Regions from separate parts of the Homo sapiens genome. Here region 1 is linked to region 2. Evidence: fine-mapped expression QTL. A gene starts in region 2. The other region holds a variant in brackets. All regions are shown on one strand. Distances are between the middles of the regions. Region 1 overlaps EFHD2 (EF-hand domain family member D2). Region 2 holds the start of PLEKHM2 (pleckstrin homology and RUN domain containing M2).

Evidence for each region. PIP is the estimated chance that this variant, and not a neighbour inherited with it, causes the effect. A credible set is the group of variants that fine-mapping cannot tell apart.
Region 1: its variant is the best candidate, but not a certain one, in a credible set for the expression of PLEKHM2 in whole blood (TOPMed, PIP 0.88).

What each region holds. Positions count from the first base shown.
Region 1 is chr1:15,416,508-15,424,507 of GRCh38, forward strand. All of the region lies in intron 1 of EFHD2 (EF-hand domain family member D2), which reads left to right. Among named protein-coding and RNA genes, the nearest start is that of EFHD2-AS1, 8.1 kb to the left of the region's middle. RefSeq lists enhancers at 1-299, 48-137 and silencers at 506-800, 1,688-1,807. The variant C/A (reference allele first, on the strand shown) is at 3,674.
Region 2 is chr1:15,678,834-15,689,563 of GRCh38, forward strand. It overlaps PLEKHM2 (pleckstrin homology and RUN domain containing M2), which reads left to right and starts at 5,487. Exons shown (of 20, transcript NM_015164.4): 1 at 5,487-5,785. The coding sequence starts at 5,726. RefSeq lists silencers at 1-348, 5,341-5,420, 5,511-5,590, 6,111-6,180 and enhancers at 1,051-1,551, 6,411-6,470.

The sequences.
Region 1 (8,000 bases), 260 kb before region 2:
CAGGGAGTCCTGAGCCACAGACACTTCAAACCAGATGCTTTGCCTCCCGTTCAGTCCTTTCTTATCCTGCAACATTATCCTCGCCCATTTCACAGTTAAGGAGGCTGGACTTTCAGAAGGGTTATGTGACTTGTCCAAAGTCACATAGCCAGTGAGGGGCAGAATAGGATTTGAACCTGGGCCTCCCCGGCTCCAAGTCCTCTGAACCCTTACAGTGGCCCAAACACCAGCAGCTTCACCGCCCGGGAGTATGTTAGAAATGCAGATGCTCAGATTCCACCCCAGATTTACCAGACTGTAATCTGCAATTTTTTTTTTTAAGAGACAGAGTCTTGCTCTGTCACTCAGACCAAGTGCAGTGGTACGATCATAGCTCACTGCAGCCTCAACTTCCTGGGCTTAAGTGATCCTCCCACCTCAGCCTCCTGAGTAGCTGGGACTACAGGCACATGCCACCACATCCAGCTAATTTTTTTTTATTTTTGTAGAGATGGGGTCTCATTATGTTGCTCAGACTGGTCTCAAACTCCTGGCCCCAAGCCACCCTCCCACCTCATCCTCCCAAAGTGCAGGGATTACAGGCATGAGCCACCACGCCCAGCCCATAATCCGCACTGTAACCAGCTTCACCAGGTGTGCACACTGACGTTTAAGAAGCGCTAAGCCTCGGCTCAGGCCCCCGCACAGCCGTCTCCCCACCACTTCCTGAGGTTGACCTAAGGTTATCCTTAGGTGGGTGACTTTGTCTGAGCTGTAAGAGGATAAGATGTATGGAGTAAAGATTAAGTTACGTTATAAACACTGGGTTATGTTAATATTAGGCATTCAATAAATATTCTTTATAATCACTATCATAACAATAATGACTATGAAGAGCAAGAAGCGAAAGGGGGTGGCTGGCAGGGAGTGCCGTGGGTGCGGTGTGAGGTTGTTGAACTCCAGGTTAGGATGCCTTTGAGCCCTGACAGCCCCCCAGCAAATTGCTTGGGGTCTCCCTCTTTATCCTCCGTGGGGGAGCCCCAAGCGCCACACTTATGTGCTCTCTATCTCTCCGTCTCTCTCTCTCTCTCTTTCTCCCCCAACCCCATACCCCACTTAGCTGAACTAGGGCAAGAGATCAAGTGTGAGATTCCCAGATAGGACTAGAGGAAGTGGTGAGCGCTGGGCTTTCCCTATATGAGTCAGGCAGTCTGGGGGTGGGGACATGCAGGAACTGGGGAAGCCAGGGGGGCCTGAGGGCTCCTGAGCCCATACCCAACACCCACCCTGTCCAATTGTCTGTTCTCCTGGGACCTGCACGCCCAGAGCGGCCATCAGTAAAGCCTGGGATGGGAGTCAGGAGAGACAGAATTGGGGTCCCTGTGCTCCCACCTTCCCGTGTGCAGTTTTTGCAATGACTCTGCTTCCTTCTGCCATCAGACTGTGCAGTGCAGCTTGGGGGCACCTGCACGAGGAGCAACTTTCTTTCTTTTTCTTTTTTTTTTTTTTTTTTTTTTTTTTGAGACAGAGTCTTGCTCTGTCACCCAGGCTGGAGTGCAGTGGCACAATCTTGGCTCACTGCAGCCTCCGCCTCCCGGGTTCAAACAATTCTTCTGCCTCAGCCTCCCTAGTAGCTGGGATTACAGGCATGCACCACCACACCCAGTTAATTTTTGTATTCTTAGTAGAGACAGGGTTTCACCATGTTGGCCAAGCTGGTCTCAAACTCCTGGCCTCAAGTGATCTGCCCGCCTCGGCCTCCCAAAGTGCTGAGATTACAGGCGTGAGCCACTGCACCTGGTCGAGGAGCAACTTTTTTTTTTTTTTTTTTTTTTTTGAGATGGAGTCTCGCTCTGTCACCCAGGCTGGAGTGCAGTGGCGCGATCTCGGCTCACTGCAAGCTCCGCCTCCTGGGTTCACGCCATTCTCCTGCCTCAGCCTCCCGAGTAGCTGGGACTACAGGCGCCCACCATCACGCCCGGCTAATTTTTTGTATTTTTAGTAGAGACGGGGTTTCACCGTGTTAGCCAGGATGGTCTCAATCTCCTGACCTTGTGATCCGCCCGCCTTGGCCTCCCAAAGTGCTGGGATTACAGGCGGGAGCCACGGCACCCGGCCGCAACTTTCTAATAGTTCCAAAGCCAAGATAGGCCCCCCCTTAAGTAAGCAATGAGCTTCCTGTCCTCAGAGGTATTCAAGGCACTAAACAACGAACTGCATCAGGAATCTGATTTTCAGGAACGACTGAATAAGATGGCCTCTAATATCCCTCCCAACCCCGAAGTTCTCTGCTGTGTCCTGATAGGCATCAGGGCATAGCATAGTCGTTAAGAGTGCATGTGTTTGATCAGGCCTGGTTCAGAGCCCAGCGACACCCTTGTCACCTATGACCTGGGCTAAGTCGCTTCCCCTCTGAGCCTCAGTCTCCTTGTCGGTTCATGTTCATGCCGCTTCATAGGCTTCTTGTGAGAATCTGATGCAAAACACCTGGCATCGTGCCTGGCACATAGCAAGTGCTCAGCAGAGTAGCCAGGAATGATGATAGATTATGACGTGGGGCTCACCTGGGTGCAAGGCTGGGACATCTGCACTGTGCATGGTTGACGCCTCCACTGCCTACCCCTGTGACTCCCTAGTTATCAGAACTGGGGAGAGGGGCAGGGGCAGGGAAGCAACCAGCTGGGGACCATGCTCACCCCAAAGGGAAAGGGTCGTCCTTGGGGGGTAACTGGCTGCTCCGCTTTCGAGAGGGGGATGGATGGGGATTTTGTCCCCAGCATCCAGGGTGCAGCTAGCTGCTGAGCCCTCCCTGACGAGAACTATTCAAGGGGAGGCAGATAGGAATGCGGGCACGGTGCCAGGCCCCGCAGCCTCCCTCCGGTGCTGGAGAAAAGTGCTGAGCTCCCAGGCTGGGCGCTTTCTGCCAGTACTGCCGAATGGCATTGGCCTTCCCAAACAGGCACCAAGCTGGGCTCTCAGTCCAGCCTCCACTGGCCCTGCAAGCTTGAGAATGTGGGACCCTCCATGGGACCAGGAAAAAGAGAGGGGCCAGGGAGGAGAAAAACTTCCAGCTGTTGGAATCCTGCAGTCTGCTGGCTGTGTGACCCTGGGCCAGTCACTGCCCACTGTGGGCCCCAGTTTCCCTACATAATGTAAAACGGGTAGACCAGGCTATCTGGGTGGATCTTGCGGGCTGATCTCTCTTTTTCTGGATCCTCTAAGCCAGCTGCAACCTCAGTTCCAGCTCAGGGAGAAGGGCTGGTGGGTGAGAGGCCCTCTAGCCCAGGAGATGCCTGTTTCCAGCCATCGTGGAACCTCGTTCTCTCCTGTGCTGCCAGTTGTCCCACACACACATTGGCACCATGAGAGTAGCCCCTTCCTCACTTTTCTCCAACCCCGAGGGAAGGTTCCTCGCTCCCTGAGGCTCCTCTCTCCCTGTTCAAGGGCTCTGTCCAGCGGTCTTCTGTCTTCCTACCTCCCAGAGATGCTGGGGCTTTGCGTCGGGCCTAGTAGGGGAAAAGTGGGCCTTTAGAGGAGAGGTCATGCTGGAGGGATCCCCTGGGTCATCATGTCCACCCCTGCCTCCAGGCCAAGCCACCACAAGCCCTGCCTCCCAACCCTGTACCACCAGTCAGGACTGGAGCCTGTGGCAGAAGCCAGTGTGTTTTTTATCATTATTTCTAATATCATCACC[C/A]TTTTTATATTGTATATGTGAAGTATATGATGTGCATATGTGACACACACAAACTTCTCAATATAACAACTACTATTACGATGATGATGAAATTAACAGGTTTGAAGGACTCACTATGTGCCAGGCATTTTATATCTGTCAGCTCATTTTCATTTTCTTTTTTGTGTTTGTTTGTCTTTTAAACAAGGTCTCACTCTGTTGCCCAGGCTGAAGAGCAGTGGCTCGATCAGGGCTCACTGCAGCCTCAACCTCCCGGGCTAAAGTGATCCTCCCACCACAGCCTCCCTAGTAGCTGGGACCAGAGGCATACACCACCACGCCCAGCTAATTATTTATTTATTTATTTATTTATTTTTTGAGACAGTGTCTCACTTTGTCACCCAGGCTGGAGTGCAGTGGCATGATCTCAGCTCACTGCAACCTCCATCTCCTGGGTTCAAGCAATTCTCCTGACTCAGCTTCCTGAGTAGCTGGAATTACAGGTGCGTGCCACCATGCCTGGCTAATTTCTACACTTTTAGTAGAGACGGAGTTTTACCATGTTGGTCAGGCTGGTCTCGAACTCCTGACCTCGTGATCCGCCTGCCTCAGCCTCCCAAAATGCTGGGATTACAGGCATGAGCCACCGCACCTGGCCCTTTATTTTTTTATAGAGATGTGGTCTCCCTATCTTGCCCAAGCTGGTCTGAAACTCCTGGGCTCAAGTGATCCTCAGCCTCCCAAAGTGCTGGCATTATAGACATGAGCCACCACGTCCAGCCTCATTTACTCTTTAATAATCTTAAAGGTAGATGTTAGGAATAATAATAACTGGTTTTTAGTATCATAGTAGGCATGTATGAAGTGCTTCCTGTGGACCAGGCTCTGTGCCAAGAGTCTGCTTGTATCGTCTCTTTTAATCCTTGCCTCCATCCTGAGATGAGTTCTTTGATCTCCATGATGTAGATGAGGAAATTGAGGTCTGTGGGGTTAGGTGACTTGACCAGGTCACTCTGCCAGCAGGTGGCAGAGCTGGGGTTTGGACCCAGGTCAGTCTCAGCGGAGTTGATGTAACCACAAACCCTCAAGGCCATCTTCAATCAGGTTGACCCTGGAACCTGGCTGATCCCCTGCACTAGACCACATCAGAGCCCAGGGCACAGGGCAGATGGCCACTCTCCAGGAGTCTCTTGGGAATGGCCTCCTCCACGGCTACCTCTGGGGGCTTCACCGCCCACCCCAGCACCTGGCCTCTCGCAGCCCCCGTCACCTCCTCTTGGTGATGGACTCTTTGGCACCGCAGCCAGCCCCTGTATTGTCCCCCTGGGGGCCAGAGCCTGCCCTGGATGGAGCCCAGCCCCAGTAATTGATTGGCCTTTGATTGATAGAGGCGGCCGTTCAAATCATGGTTTGAGCCACAGCCCAGCCAGGCCTGGGAGCTGCCAAAGACAGAGGGATCCACAGCCCACGTTTCCATCCAAGTTTGGACACTTTATCTGCACTTCCTCTGAAACTGAGCTGCCCCTGGCTGCAGAAGAAACCCATGCACTTGAGCAATAAATAAAGCTGGGGCTCAGGGAGAGACACGTGGGACCCAGGGGCTGGGGCGTGAACCCCTGACCTGCTGGTTATGGGACCTGTGGCCTCACCAACAGCCCTCCTGACCTAATCCGGACCTGGAGGATTGCTGAGCACAGGGATTGTAAAGAGAAAGTGCTGGTGCGTTGGGAGTTTAGTGACGGTGATTCAATCTTGTTTTAGCGGTGGTGACTGCCATTTATGCAGCTAGCTCTGTGCGCTGGGAGCTGTGCTGAGTGCTTGACAGGGATGGGCTCAGTCGTTCCTCACAGTGGCCCATGAGAGAGGCCCCATTGCAGCAGGGTTCTCAGCCTCAGCTCCACTGGCACTTGGGGCCAGGTCATTCCATTTTTTTTTTTTTTTTTTTTTTTTTGAGACAGAGTCTTGCTTTGTCGCCCAGGCTGGAGTGCAGTGGTGCCATCTCAGCTCATTGCAACCTCCACCTCCTGTGTTTAAGTGATTCTCCTGCCTCAGCCTCCCAAGTAGCAGGGATTACAGGTGCCTGCCACCATGCCCAGCTAATTTGTGTATTTTTAATAGAGACAGGGTTTCACCATGTTGGCCAGGATGGTCTTGATCTCCTGACCTCATGATCTGCCTGCCTCAGCCTCCCAAAGCGCTGGGATTATAGGCGTGAGCCACCGTGCCCAGCTGGCCAGGTCATTCTTTGCGGTGGGGCCACCCTATGCGCTATAGGAGCTTCCCTGGCCTCCACCCACCAGATGCCACTGGCATCCCCCCCACCTCCGCCGCCCCAGGTATGACAACCAAAAACACCTCTAGACATTGCCAGATGTCTCCTGGGGGGCACATGCACCCCAGCTTAAGAGATGCTGCATTTTGGCCAGGTGCGGTGGCTCACACCTGTAATCTCAGCACTTTGGGAGGCCGAGGCGGACGGATCATGAGGTCAGGAGATCGAAACCATCCTGGCTAACACGGTGAAACCCCATCTCTACTAAAAATACAAAAAATTAGCCGAGCGTGGTGGCGGGCACCTGTAGTCGCAGCTACTCAGGAGGCTGAGGCAGGAGAATGGAGTGAACCCAGGAGGCAGAGCTTGCAGTGAGCCAAGATTGCGCCACTGCACTCCAGCCTGGGCGACAGAGCGAGACTCCGTCTCAAAAAAATAAAAATAAAAAGAGATGCTGCATTTTGTGGCTGAGGAGCCCAGGCAATTTGGCTTCAGAGCCTGACTGTCATCGCTGACCTTGGGAGCCCAGGGTCAGAAAGCGGCAGGGCTTTGCTTTCCTGGGGGGCACTGAGGAGGGGAGTCCTCGTGACTTGGCTCAGGAAAGACTGAGTCCCTCACCAGGTGCTCCTGCACAGCCCCACGGTCATGTGGCGCCCGCCCAGCCCTCTACCAGGCAGCAAACAGGGACCAGAGATGGCAGGAGGCGCCTCCGCTGTGCCCCCCAGAACCCCTCCAGCTCCAGGTGGAGGCTGGACCACAGCAGCTTTGGCCTGCCTGACCCTCTGAGTCCCACACCTTCTACTGTCACAGAGGTGGCCACTGCCCACAGGGGCTGCTGGCCCATCCACCTCCACCCCAACCCTCATCCATCAGTGGGGCAGAAGCCGCAGGACCCTGTGTTCCCTCCAGGGCTCCCAAGACCCATCTTTGCTGTGTCACTTTCAACCACTGACTCACTGGCTCGTGAACTATTTATACCCCTCGCACAAATGCTCCCCTTGTGCTCCAGGCAGCCGTCTGTGTTCTGCAGCAGCCCCAGGACACGTTGGGGAGGGGCTGGGTACAGAGCAAATGTGCAAGTTTATGAGCCCAGCAGATCAAGTCTGGAAGCCCAGCTCCTTCCTTACTGCTGTGTGACTGTGGGTGGGTCACTTAACCTCTCTGAGCCTTGGTCATAAAATAAGGTTATTAGGAAAATTAAGTAAAGTAAGCAGTTCCCAGCATAAAGACAGATCTCAGTACATGGTTGCTATTAGGTGTTCAAAGTACACCTAACTAGAGAAGGCGAAAGGAGCTGGGGAGCCCGTAAGAAGGTGCAGAAATGAGACATATTCATGCAGAAGCTCAAGCGCCCGGGACATAGGGTTCTGGAACACATCCACCTGTGTTGCGCTGCTGTCACCAGCACTGTCACCCAGCCAGTTCAAGGCCTGGGGGACTGCACAAGCCTTCTTTAGGTGCAGAAAAACCCATTTTGGCTGGGCAAAGTGGTGCACGCCTGTAATTCCAGCACTCTGGGAGGCTGATGTAGGAGGATTGCTTGAGCCCAGGAGTTTGAGACCAGCCTGGGCAACATATTGACACCCCGTCTCTACAAAAAAAATACAAAACTTGGCCAGTCATGGTGGCATGCACCTGCAGTCCCAGCTACTTGGGAGGCTGAGGCGGGAGGATCGCTTGAGCCCAGGAGGTAGAGGCTGCAGTAAGCTGTGATCGCGCCTGGGTAACAGAGCAACACCCCGTCTCAAAAAGAAAAAAAAAAAAAAGAAAAACCCATGTTACCAACTCTGGGATCACTCTCCCCAGCCCCCATCTTGTCTTCCTCCTACGCTGTTCCCAGAGACCAGTAGGGCAGGTGTTTGGTTGATAAGAGAGCCCAGCTGGGCAAACAGCGCCTCGCCCTCTTTCACCAGGCTGTGTGCTCCAGGAACCAGTGGTGCCTTCCCAGCCAGGCAACAGGCAGAAAGGCCACCTAGACTCTTACTACACAGAAGCCAGTCAAGAGGGACTTGCCCCCAACCCCACCCCTGTCTCTGCCAGGTTGTTAGTGGTAGAAAAAAAGAGAACCTGAGAGTG
Region 2 (10,730 bases):
TCAACCATTCATGAGAACTCCACCCCCATGATCCAGTCACCTCCCATCAGGCCCCACCTCCAACACTGAGGATTCCTTTTATTTATTTATTTATTTTCTTTTTTTTGAGACAGGTCTTGCTCTGCACCCAGGCTGGAATGCAGTGGCGCGATCTCAGCTCACTGCAACCTCCGCCTCCTGGGTTCAAGTGGTTCTCCTGCCTCAGCCTCCGGTGTAGCTGGGATTAAAGCACGTGCACCACACCTGGCTAATTTTTGTATTGTTAGTAAAGATGGGGTTTCACCATGTTGGCCAGGCTGGTCTCGAACTCCTGACCTCAAGTGATCTGCTTGCCTTGGCCTCCCAAAGTGCTGGGATTATAGGAATGAGCCACCGTGCCTGGCCTAAGGATTACATTTTGACATGAGATTTGAAACAAATATCCAAACTGTATCATCAGGTGTAAAGAGAAGCAACCTTACATCTGTCCTTAGTTCTCTCTTTTTTATTTTTTGTCACCCAGGCTGGGGTCTTGAACTCCTGACCTCAGGCAATCCACCCACCTCGGCATCCCAAAGTGCTGGGATTACAAGCGTGAGCCACTGCACCCAGTGTCTTTTGTCCTTTAACTTCCATGGCCAGCTAAAAACTTTATCTGCATTTTAATTAAGTTAAAAATTAATCAGAAAAAAGAAATTAATCAGAAAATTAATCAGAAAAAAAGAAACTGTAGCATAGCCCTTTCTATGCTACAGCTCAAGGCAGCTGTTCTAGGTTGATGGACAGCTCTCTTCCATGCAGTGATTCAGGGAACTAGGGTGTCTATATTTTATATGTCTGACATCCCCTTGGCTTCATTGCACTGGTAGAAGAAGAAACAGCATGGAAGAGGAAATTTGCATAGAATCCCAGCCTAGGAATGGATCACATTTCTCTGTTCATGTTCTATTTGAGAGGATTTGATCATATAGCTGTGCGTGTCACAAAGGAGGCTGGGAAATGTAGTGCAGCACTCTGCCTGGCTACAACCCTATTACTGTGTAAAGAGAGAGAAGATTTTGTTTTTTTGTTGTTTGGCTTTTGTTTTGAGACAGGGTCTTGCTCTGTTGCCTAGGTTGGAGTGCAGTGGTGCAAACATGGCTCACTGCAGCCTCAACCTCCCATGTAGCTGGGATCACAGGAACACATCACCATGCCTGGCTAATTTTTGGATTTTTTGTAGAGATGGGGGGTCTCACTTTGTTGCCCAGGCTGGTCTTGAACTCCTGGGCTCAAGTGATCGTCCCACCTTGGGCTCCCAAAGTGCTGGGATTACAGGCGTGAGCCATCACACGCAGCCAGAGAGAGCAGATTTGGGTGAATAGCTAGAGGCCCTCGGATGCGAACAGACCAGCATGCTTGAGAAACTAAGGTTGGTGGGGCTGGCACACACCAGCGGAGAGTTAGGAGATGAGTCAGGGAGGGAGGCTGGATCAGATCAGCCTTGGAAGCCAGAGAAAAGAGTATGGACTGTATTCTAAATGCTATGACAGTAGGCAGAGGCTGCAGTCAGCTGAGAACACGCCACTGCGCTCCAGCCTGGGTGACAGAGCGAGACTCTGTCTCAGAAAACAACAGGCTGGGCGCGGTGACTCACACCTGTAATCCCAGCACTTTAGGAGGCTGAGGCAGGTGGATCATGAGGTCAAGAGCTCGAGACCAGCCTGGCCAAGATGGTGAAACCCCAACTCTACTAAAAATACAAAAATTAGCCAGGTGCAGTGGCAGGAATCTGTAATCCCAGCTACTTGGGAAACTGAGGCAGGAGACTCACTTGAACCCGGGGGGGGCGGAGGTTGCAGTGAGCCAAGATGGAGCCACTGCACTCCAGCCTGGGCGACAGAGTAAAACTCCATCTCAAAAAACAACAACAACAAAAAATAAGAATAGAATCATTTTTCCTGGGTCACTGATTTGGAAATTAAGGCAAAGTGACTTGCCTGAGGCCCTAGCATGAGTCAGTTGAGGCTTTTAATTCTTGTTGCCTTTTGACTCAGAGTCCCATGCACTTCTCATGAGATCAGAAAAGTCTTGTGCAATAAATGAATGAGCTTCAATTTCCAGCTTAAGTGACTCCCAATAACAAATAAGTATCTTGTGTTTTTCAGAGTCACCCTTTTTTTTTTGGTTTGCTTTTTGGGGTTTTTTAAGAGGTGAAGTCTTGCTCTGTCACCCAGGCTGGAGTGCAGCCACATGAGCTCAAGAGATCCTCCCTCTTCAGCCTCCAAAGCAGCTGAGGCTATAGACATGCACCACCATGCCCGGCTCGCCCTGTGTTTGACACGCAGAACGGATTCCATATTTGAACTCTGGACAAGGAGCAATTAGCTGCACATCAATGCACATTTGGCCTCTCCCTCTTTCCTGCAAGAAGTGTTGTTAGATAACAATGTCTGTTGTACCAGCTCACATACCTATGCAAACCTTAGGAATTTGGTAGACAGTGAGACCTTACATTCCTCTGAATGTTGTAAAATGCTGAATGTGACCATCTCCCAATACATGCAGATAAAAACAATATGGCAGAAATGCCACCACCTTCTTATGTCACAGACCAAGTGGACGCCCCAGGCATACAGCCAAGGAATAAAAATACCCACTGAGTGTACCATGTGCCCAAGCCATGATCAGCCATTCCTAGGGAGGAGGTGCCCAGCAGAACGCAGTGCTCAGCAGAAGATGGCCTGCTATTCAACAGCAGAGAAGAATCCCAAAGCTTGTTGGGTCAGTTTTGGGGGACTGCATTTTCATGAACCAGAGCTGCATCCAGCAGGTTGGGGCCTGTATGCACCCTAGCCAGGATGGAGTGGGAAGGAAGTGCGCAATTCTGACTCCACAAACACCTTTGGTAAGTAGGAGGCTATTTCTACTCATAGATACCTGGCTATTTATTTCCTCATTCAAAGTAATGTGTCCTCTGTCCTCAACCTTTTCTCTACCTATCCAGTGACTGGAGTCTCAACCCTCATCTGTTCTTATTCTGCTCTCTGAATATGAGAGGTAGATAACAACTCCAAAGAGGCTGTTATCTCTTGCTTTCCTGAACTCAGTACAAATAAGAAAACGCCCTGGGCTGGACATGATGGCTCATGCCCGTAATCCCAGCCCTTTGGGAGGCTGAGGTAAGAGGATGGCCTGAGCTCAGGAGTTCAAGACCAGCCTGGGTAACAGAGCGAGGCCCTGTCTCTACAAAAAATAAAATTCGCTGGGCGTATTTTATTCTGTACTCTCAGCTACTGGGGAGGCTGACGTGGGAGGATCCCCCAGGGAGTTCAAGCTACAGTGAGCTATGATCACACCCACCACTGCACTCCAGCCTGGGTGACAGAGTGAGACCCTGTCTTTAAAAAATAATTTAAGGCCAAGGCGGGCAGATCACCTGAGGTCAGGAGTTCAAGACCAGCCTGGCCAACATGGCGAAACCCCGTCTCTACTAAAAATACAAAAAAATTAGCTGGGCGTGGTGGCAGGCGCCCGTAATCCCAGCTACTGGGGAGGCTGAGACAGGAGAATCACTTGAACCTGGGAGGAGGAAGTTGCAGTGAGCTGAAATTGTGCCACCGCACTCCGGCCTGGGTGACAGAGCGAGACTCCGCCTCAAAAAAAAAAAAAAAAATTAGCTGGGCATGGTGTCACATGCACTTGTAGTCCCAGCTACTCGGGAGGCTGAGGCAGGAGAATCGCTTAAAGCTGGGAAGCGGAAGTTGCAGTGAGCAGAGATCGCACCACCGCATTCCAGCCTGGGGAACAGAGCAAGGCTCTGTCTCAAAAACAAACAAAACAAAACAAAACAAAAAAAACAAAAAACAAAGTACCACTATTTTGGGTCTCTCCTTGGGAAACTAAGGGGCTGGGGAGCGACCTTTGGAGGCTTGTGGGGTCCCTCTGAGATAAGCAATGAATCAGTATTTCAGATGCTAAGGGGACTTCAGGGATGGGGTGGCCTGAGCAGAGAAGAGGGAAGACCAGGGAACCAGAGTTGAGAACTGGGGTGTCTGAGAATAAAAAGGAGGGACTAATCTATGTGTCAGGATATATTTATTTGGGAACTTAAGGAGGGAAGAGAGCCAGGTAGGAGACTGACACCTCTAAGTGCAGGGGCTTTATGAGATGGTGGATTTGAGGAGGGTGTGTGGGAAGAGAGTTGTTACGGTGGGTTTCAGGGGCTGAGGGAGTTGAGGCCCTTGGGATACGTGGGGCTGAAGAAGAGGGATAAGGATAAGGAGTGGGAATGGGGCATTGGGGCTGAAGGTGAGGAGGGTGTGTTTTGGGGGTGGGGAGGAACACCAGGGACCTCAAATGTAGGACTGGGCCTTGAGGGTGAGGCACTGAGGAGGGGAGGCTGTGGAGGGCCAGGGGGCCCAGGGAGGGTCTAGGGCTGGGGACTGGAGTCTAGGCTGACCCGGTGGGGGTGCTGGGTCCTCCAGGCTGCGAAAGCCAGGGGGCCTGGGTCTGCACATTGAGGGGGTGGCTGGGCTAAGGAAGGGGAGGAAGATAAGTGGGGCTTGCAGGCTAAGAGGGTCTTGGGGTCCCTGGCCAGAGTTAGTGGGGTGCACTGGGGTCTCCAAGGAGGGGTCTGTGGACTAAAGAGGGCCGGCGGGAGGGGGCCCAGGGTCTGTGGGTGTCTCGAGTCTCTGAGGAGGGCCGGGGTCTCAGGGTCTGTGGGGGTCTCTGGCCTGTGGGGTCGGAGTCTCCAGAGTCCTTGGGGCCTGTGGGAGTCTCTGGGGTTTTGTGGGGGGATCCTGTGGGCTGAGGAGGGCTGTGGGGAGGGTCTCAGGGTCTCTGGGGAGGGCCAGTGCCTCGGGGTCTTTGGGGGTCTCTGAGGAGGGCTGGGGGCCCAGGGTCTGTGGGGGTCCCCAGCAGGTGGGGTTGGGGTCTCCGGAGTCCCTGGAGTCTGAGGGTGTCTCTGAGGTCCCAGGGGGGAGTCTATGGCCTGAGGGCTGAGGGGGAGGGTCTCCAGGGTCTCTGAGGAGGGCCGGTGTCCCGGGCAGGCGGGGTCGGGGTCTCCGGAGTTCCTGGGGTCTGAGGGTGTCTCTGGGGTCCCTGAGGGAATCTGTGGGCTGACGAGGCCTGGGGGAGGGTCTCCGAGGAGGGCCGGGGTCCCAGGGTCTGTGGGGGTCTCTGGCAGGCGGGGTCGGGGTGTCCGGAGTCCCTGGGGTCTGAGGGTGTCTCTGGGGTCCCTGAAGGAATCTGTGGGCTGAGGAGGGCTTGGGGAGGGTCTCTGAGGAGCCCCGAGGTCCCCGGCAGGCGGGGTCGAGGTCTCTGGCGTCCCTGGGGTCTGAGGGTGTCTCTGGGGTGCCGGGGAGAGTCTGTGACTTGAGGAGGGCTGGGGGCGGGTCTCGGGGTCTCTGGGGAGGGCCGCGGCCAAGGGTCTGTGCGGGTCTCCGGGTCCCCGGAGTCCCCAGGCGCAGGCGGGCCCTGGCGCCGCCCCGCCTGACATCAGTTCCTGCCGCCGCCGCCGCCGCGGCGCACAGCCCGCGGCCTCCTTCCCCGCCGGCCGCGCTCCGGAGCCTCCGGGCCGCGGTGGAGCGAGGGCCCAGGCGAGGCGAGGGCCGGGCGGCGGGCGCCGGGCCCCGCGGCCGGCACGACGGAGCCCCCGTACGGCCGGCGGCAGCGGTTGGCGGCGGCCCCCGGCCCCCGGCGCGGGAAGCGGCGGCGGGGCGGCGGCGGCGGTGGCGGTGGCGGTGGCGGCGACGGTGGCAGCGCCATGGAGCCGGGGGAGGTGAAGGACCGGATCCTGGAGAACATCTCGCTGTCGGTGAAGAAGGTGAGCGCGGCCTCCCTCCCGGCCGGGGCCCCTTCCTCGCCGCGCCCCCCACGCCCTCCGGCGGCGCTCTCCCGGGCCGGGGCCCCCCGCCCTTCCCCTCCGCGACCCGGGGGGCGACGAGCGGCCGGGAGCCCCGGGCCGGTAGAGGGGAAGCGGCGCCGCTCACGTGAGCGCCGCGGCCTCGGAGCTATTTTTAAAGAACAAAGTTGAGGTCAGCATCCTCGGAGCTTCCCCAAACCTGGCCCGGGGCCCTGCCCTCCCGGAGAGGGGTCAGCGACCCTCCGGTCCCCCACTGGGGCAGCGGCGCCCCCGGGAGCTCCTGAAGGAACCCCATGCAGCCTCCTGTGGAATCCGCTGCATCCCCGGGTCCCCCCGCCAGGCTGGCGTCGCCCAGGGTCTGGCAGTCAGGGTGGAGGCCAGTGATAAGCAACTTCACTTTCCCATGGCCTGGGTCCCGGCGACATTGCCTCTGCTCCTGGGAAGTCCCCTGAATAATCTTGCTCAAGGATGGTAGCTTTGAAGAGGTTCACTAGGGGCTTTGATTATAAGAACCTGAAGTACATGGGGATTGCATTTTGGATGCTGATCCGGGGAACCGGGTGACACCACAGACACCTTGCTGTGGGGCTTGCCGCAGTAAACATCACTGTCCCAATTCCAGGTAGAAATGAGTACATACCTGTCAAGGGCATGTATTTGTGATGAAGTTGGCATATCCGCAAAAGGGTCCGTGCTAGAAGGTAGAATCCATATTCTGACGTTTTTGGGCTGGATATAAAAATAATAATAATAAATTTAAAAGAATCCATATTCACTGAAAACCTAAATGGCCAAATCAGAATGGATTTTTCTCTCTCTCTCCCTCTCTGTGTGTGTGTTTGTGTAATTTGAATTCCTGGCTCACCAGATAGTCTCAGAAACTGAAAAAAAAAAAAAAAAAAAGAAAGAAAGAAAGAAAAAAGAGAAAGAAAATGGCTTGGGTGAGGGACTCAGCAGCTTATTTTACTTGAAGAAGCAAAATGGATAGAATTAATTAGATCAACCATCATATTTAAATAATTGTCTGTTTTCCCACTGAGATTCCTCAAAAGCAACACAGGCAAGCTATTTTACCTTTCATAAAGATAAATGTGACTTAAAAAGAAAATAGATTCTCGAATTGCCCTTACTGAAAACATTCCTCTAAAAGCACAGCTAAAGTAACATTGCAGAGATCCAACAAGAGTTTTACGTAGTTTTACTGAGCTTTGCTAATGTAATGGGGTATGGTTTTTGCTTACTCAAGGAGGGCAGGATGAGCAAATACTTTGTTGAGAAGCAGTACATCTTTCCTAATGGAAGAGAAAGGAACACAGGTGACCTTTCTAATCTAATCTGGGCTGATTGTGGCTTTAGGTAGGCCCGGCGTTTGTCTTTGGATTTCAAACAAATGAATGGAGAAAGTCTGTGATGGAGAGGCAGTAGACATGGGGCACGCTGTCACATGTATAAGCATGAGTCTTTTGAAGGCAGAGATTCACTTTGTAAGTCAGGCTGTCACTTATGAGTTAGGTGTGTTTGTTGAGGTGCATATAATTGTAGGTGTTTGGACAAGGACACTTATTGAGCTGGAATGCACCCCAGAAAATGTCACACTAGAAACTGCAAACCCATCCCTGGGTGTATCACAACCAAAGCCATGGGCAGCATCATTGTTAGGAGCATGGATTCTGGAGTCCAGCTGCCTGATTGAATCCCCGCCCTGCCAAATTAATAACCCTGTAACCTTGGTCAGGCTTATTAACCTCTCCATGCCCAGTTTCTTCATCTGTAAAGCAGGGATAAAATTAGGGATGTTGTGGAGTGTTTTTTTGTTGTTGTTGTTGTTGTTGTTTGTTTTTGAGACAGAGTCTTGCTCTGTTGCCTGGGCTGGAGGGCAGTGGTGTGATCTCGGCTCACTACAACCTCCACCTCCCAGGTTCAAGCGATTCTTCTGCCTCGGCCTCTCGAGTAGCTGGGATTACAGGTGTGCGCCACCACACCCGGCTAAATTTTTTTTTTTTTTTTTTGAGACGGAGTCTCGCTCTGTCGCCCAGGTTAGAATGCAGTGGCCTGATCTCCGCTCAGTGCAAGCTCCGCCTCATGGGTTCACACCATTCTCCTGCCTCAGCCTCCCAAGTAGCTGGGACTATAAGCGCCGGCCACCACGCCCGGCTAATTTTTTTGTATTTTTAGTAGAGACGGGGTTTCACCATGTTAACCAGGGATGGTCTCGATCTCCTCACCTTGTGATCTGCCCGCTTCGGCCTCCCAAAGTGCTGGGATTACAGGCGTGAGCCACGGCGCCCAGCGTCTAATTTTTGTATTTTTAGTGGAGATGGGGTTTCCCCATGTTGGCCAGGCTGGTCTTGAACTCCTGACCTCAAGTGATCTGCCTGCCTTGGCCCCCCGAAGTGCTGGGATTACAGGCATGAGCCACCGTGCCCGACTACTTTTTGTATTTTTTGTAGAGATGGGATTTCGCCCATATTGGTCAGGCTGTGTTATGAAGATTTTGTTTGTTTGTTTTTTGTTTTTTGTTTTTTTTGAGATGGAGTCTTGCTCTGTCACCCAGGCTGGAGTGCAGTGGCGTGATCTCAGCTCGCTGCAAGCTCCGTCTCTCAGGTTCACGCCATTCTCCTGCCTCAGCCTCCCGAGTAGCTGGGACTACAGGTTACAGGCGCCCGCCACTATGCCCGGCTAATTTTTTTGTATTTTTAGTAGAGACGGGGTTTCACCGTGTTAGCCAGGATGGTCTCGATCTCCTGACCTCATGATCCGCTCACCTCGGCCTCCCAAAGTGCTGGGATTACAGGCATGGTGAAGTTTTAATAAACATGTAGAGTGTTTAGCATGGATCCTGGCCCAGTCTTAACTGGTAGCTTTTTTCTTTGTGCAAGAGCCCATTCCTCAATTTTACAAGGTTTGAAGATGGCTCAACTGCCTCACCACCTAAAGGTCGTTCTACAACACCATTTGTTCTTGGTAGCCACTTCCTTTGTGTGTTTGTTTGAGACAACTGCGATGTGATTCTTGCATCATAAATTACATTTGGTTTTCTGAATCAGAGTGTCTGCTTTACTAGGAACCTGTTAGTTTGGCTACAGCAGTAGACATTGAGGACAGCAGTCTTGGGGTCAGATTTGTCCTTGAATGCCAGTCTCACCTAAATGTGTTATATAGCACCTTGAGAGTTGCTTTGCCTTTTTTCTTGCATCCTACCACCAGTAAATGGTCTTACTGGTCATTTTATAAGGATTTTACGTGAAGAAAATGAGATGCATATTTCTGCAAGGAAAGATCCATTGTGTATTTCTATATTTGCAAAGAGTACTTTAGAACTTTTTATGAAAATGAAGCATGCCTACAGGAAAGTGTACAGGTCCTGAGCGGACAGCTTAATGAGTTCTCACAAAGTGAAAACACCTGCATATCCAGCACCCTGACCAAGAAACAGAACATGACCATTATCCCAGAGGGCCCCTCGTTCCCCTCCCAGAAACTACACCCTCAAAGCAACCACTATCCCCAAGGAGTATTGTTGAGTTCAACTATTTTCACACTTAGATTTTGTGATGGTGAATACCCATTATAACACCAGACAGGTGAAACAGCTGTTAATCCATCTGAATCCAAGGCAACCTGTGTTCTGATATGGACACAGAATTCCTGAGGGTGAGAGAGAACTGGAGAGTTTAATAATTAACATGATTAAATGAAAATGATAACAATAGGCCAGGCATGGTGGCTCACGCCTGTAATCCCAGCACTTTGGGAGGCCAAGGTGGATGGATAACTTGAGGCCAGAAGTTCAAGACCAGCCTTGCCAACATGGTGAAACCCCATCTCTACCAAAAATACAGAAATTAGCTGGGTGTGGTGGCGCGTGCCTGTAGTCCCAGCTACTTGGGAGGCTGAGGCAGGGAAGCACTTGACCTGGGAGGTGGAGGTTGCAGTGAACTGAGATCGCGCCATTGCACTCCAGCGTGGGTGACAGAGGGAGACTCTGTCTCAAAAAAAAAAAAAAAAAAGGAAATGATAACAATAGCAAATTCAATTCATATTCAATTCTAGAAAGGGAGCTAGTAGCAGAAACATCCCAGATGCTGCCAGTAAAGCCTGTGGTTGCCGATTTGTTAAAGAGAAATGTCCAAGTCAACGACAGCTTTGGCATTTTTGAATCAGCATGTGGTTCTACTAAATAACATCTTCTCCAGGGGAGGGAAGGCAGGCAGTGATTTTCCCAAGTTCTGTTTTTGAGGAGCTGGTGTGTCTGCTGCATATGCCTGCAGAATGAGCAAAGACTATATGCCATAAGAAGCAACCTCCTGGCCAGGCGCGGTGGCTCATGCCTGTAACCCCAACACTTTGGGAGGCCGAGGCGGGCGGATCACCTGAGGTCAGGAGATCGAGACCGGCCTGACCAACATCGAGAAACCCCATCTCTATTAAAAATACAAAATTAGCTAGGTGTGGTGGTGCATACCTGTAATCCCAGCTACTCGGGAGGCTGAGGCAGGAGAATCGCTTAAACTCGGGAGGCGGAGGTTGTGGTGAGTTGTGGCACCATTGCACTCCAGCCTGGGCAAAAAGAGCGAAACTCCGTCTCAAAAAAAAAAAAAAAAGAAAGAAAGAAATACTGGTAGAGTTCAGAGAAAGAGAAGAAGCAGGCATTCAAGACAGAAGAAACAGCCTAGGCATCCCCAAGGAAGTGGGGCCTTCCAGATGGTCTTCCGAGGACAGGCGTGACCTGTCTTAAGAGGGACCTGTCTTAAGATTGCCAAGGGTTCTGCAAGATGCGGCTGGAAGGTGCTTTCTGTGGAAGCCATGTAGCCTAGTGGACACAAACGCAGGCTTCAGCGGTATGCAGACTTGGGTCTGGGTTTGTAACTGACCATCTCGATCCTGGCAGATGACTGGACCACTG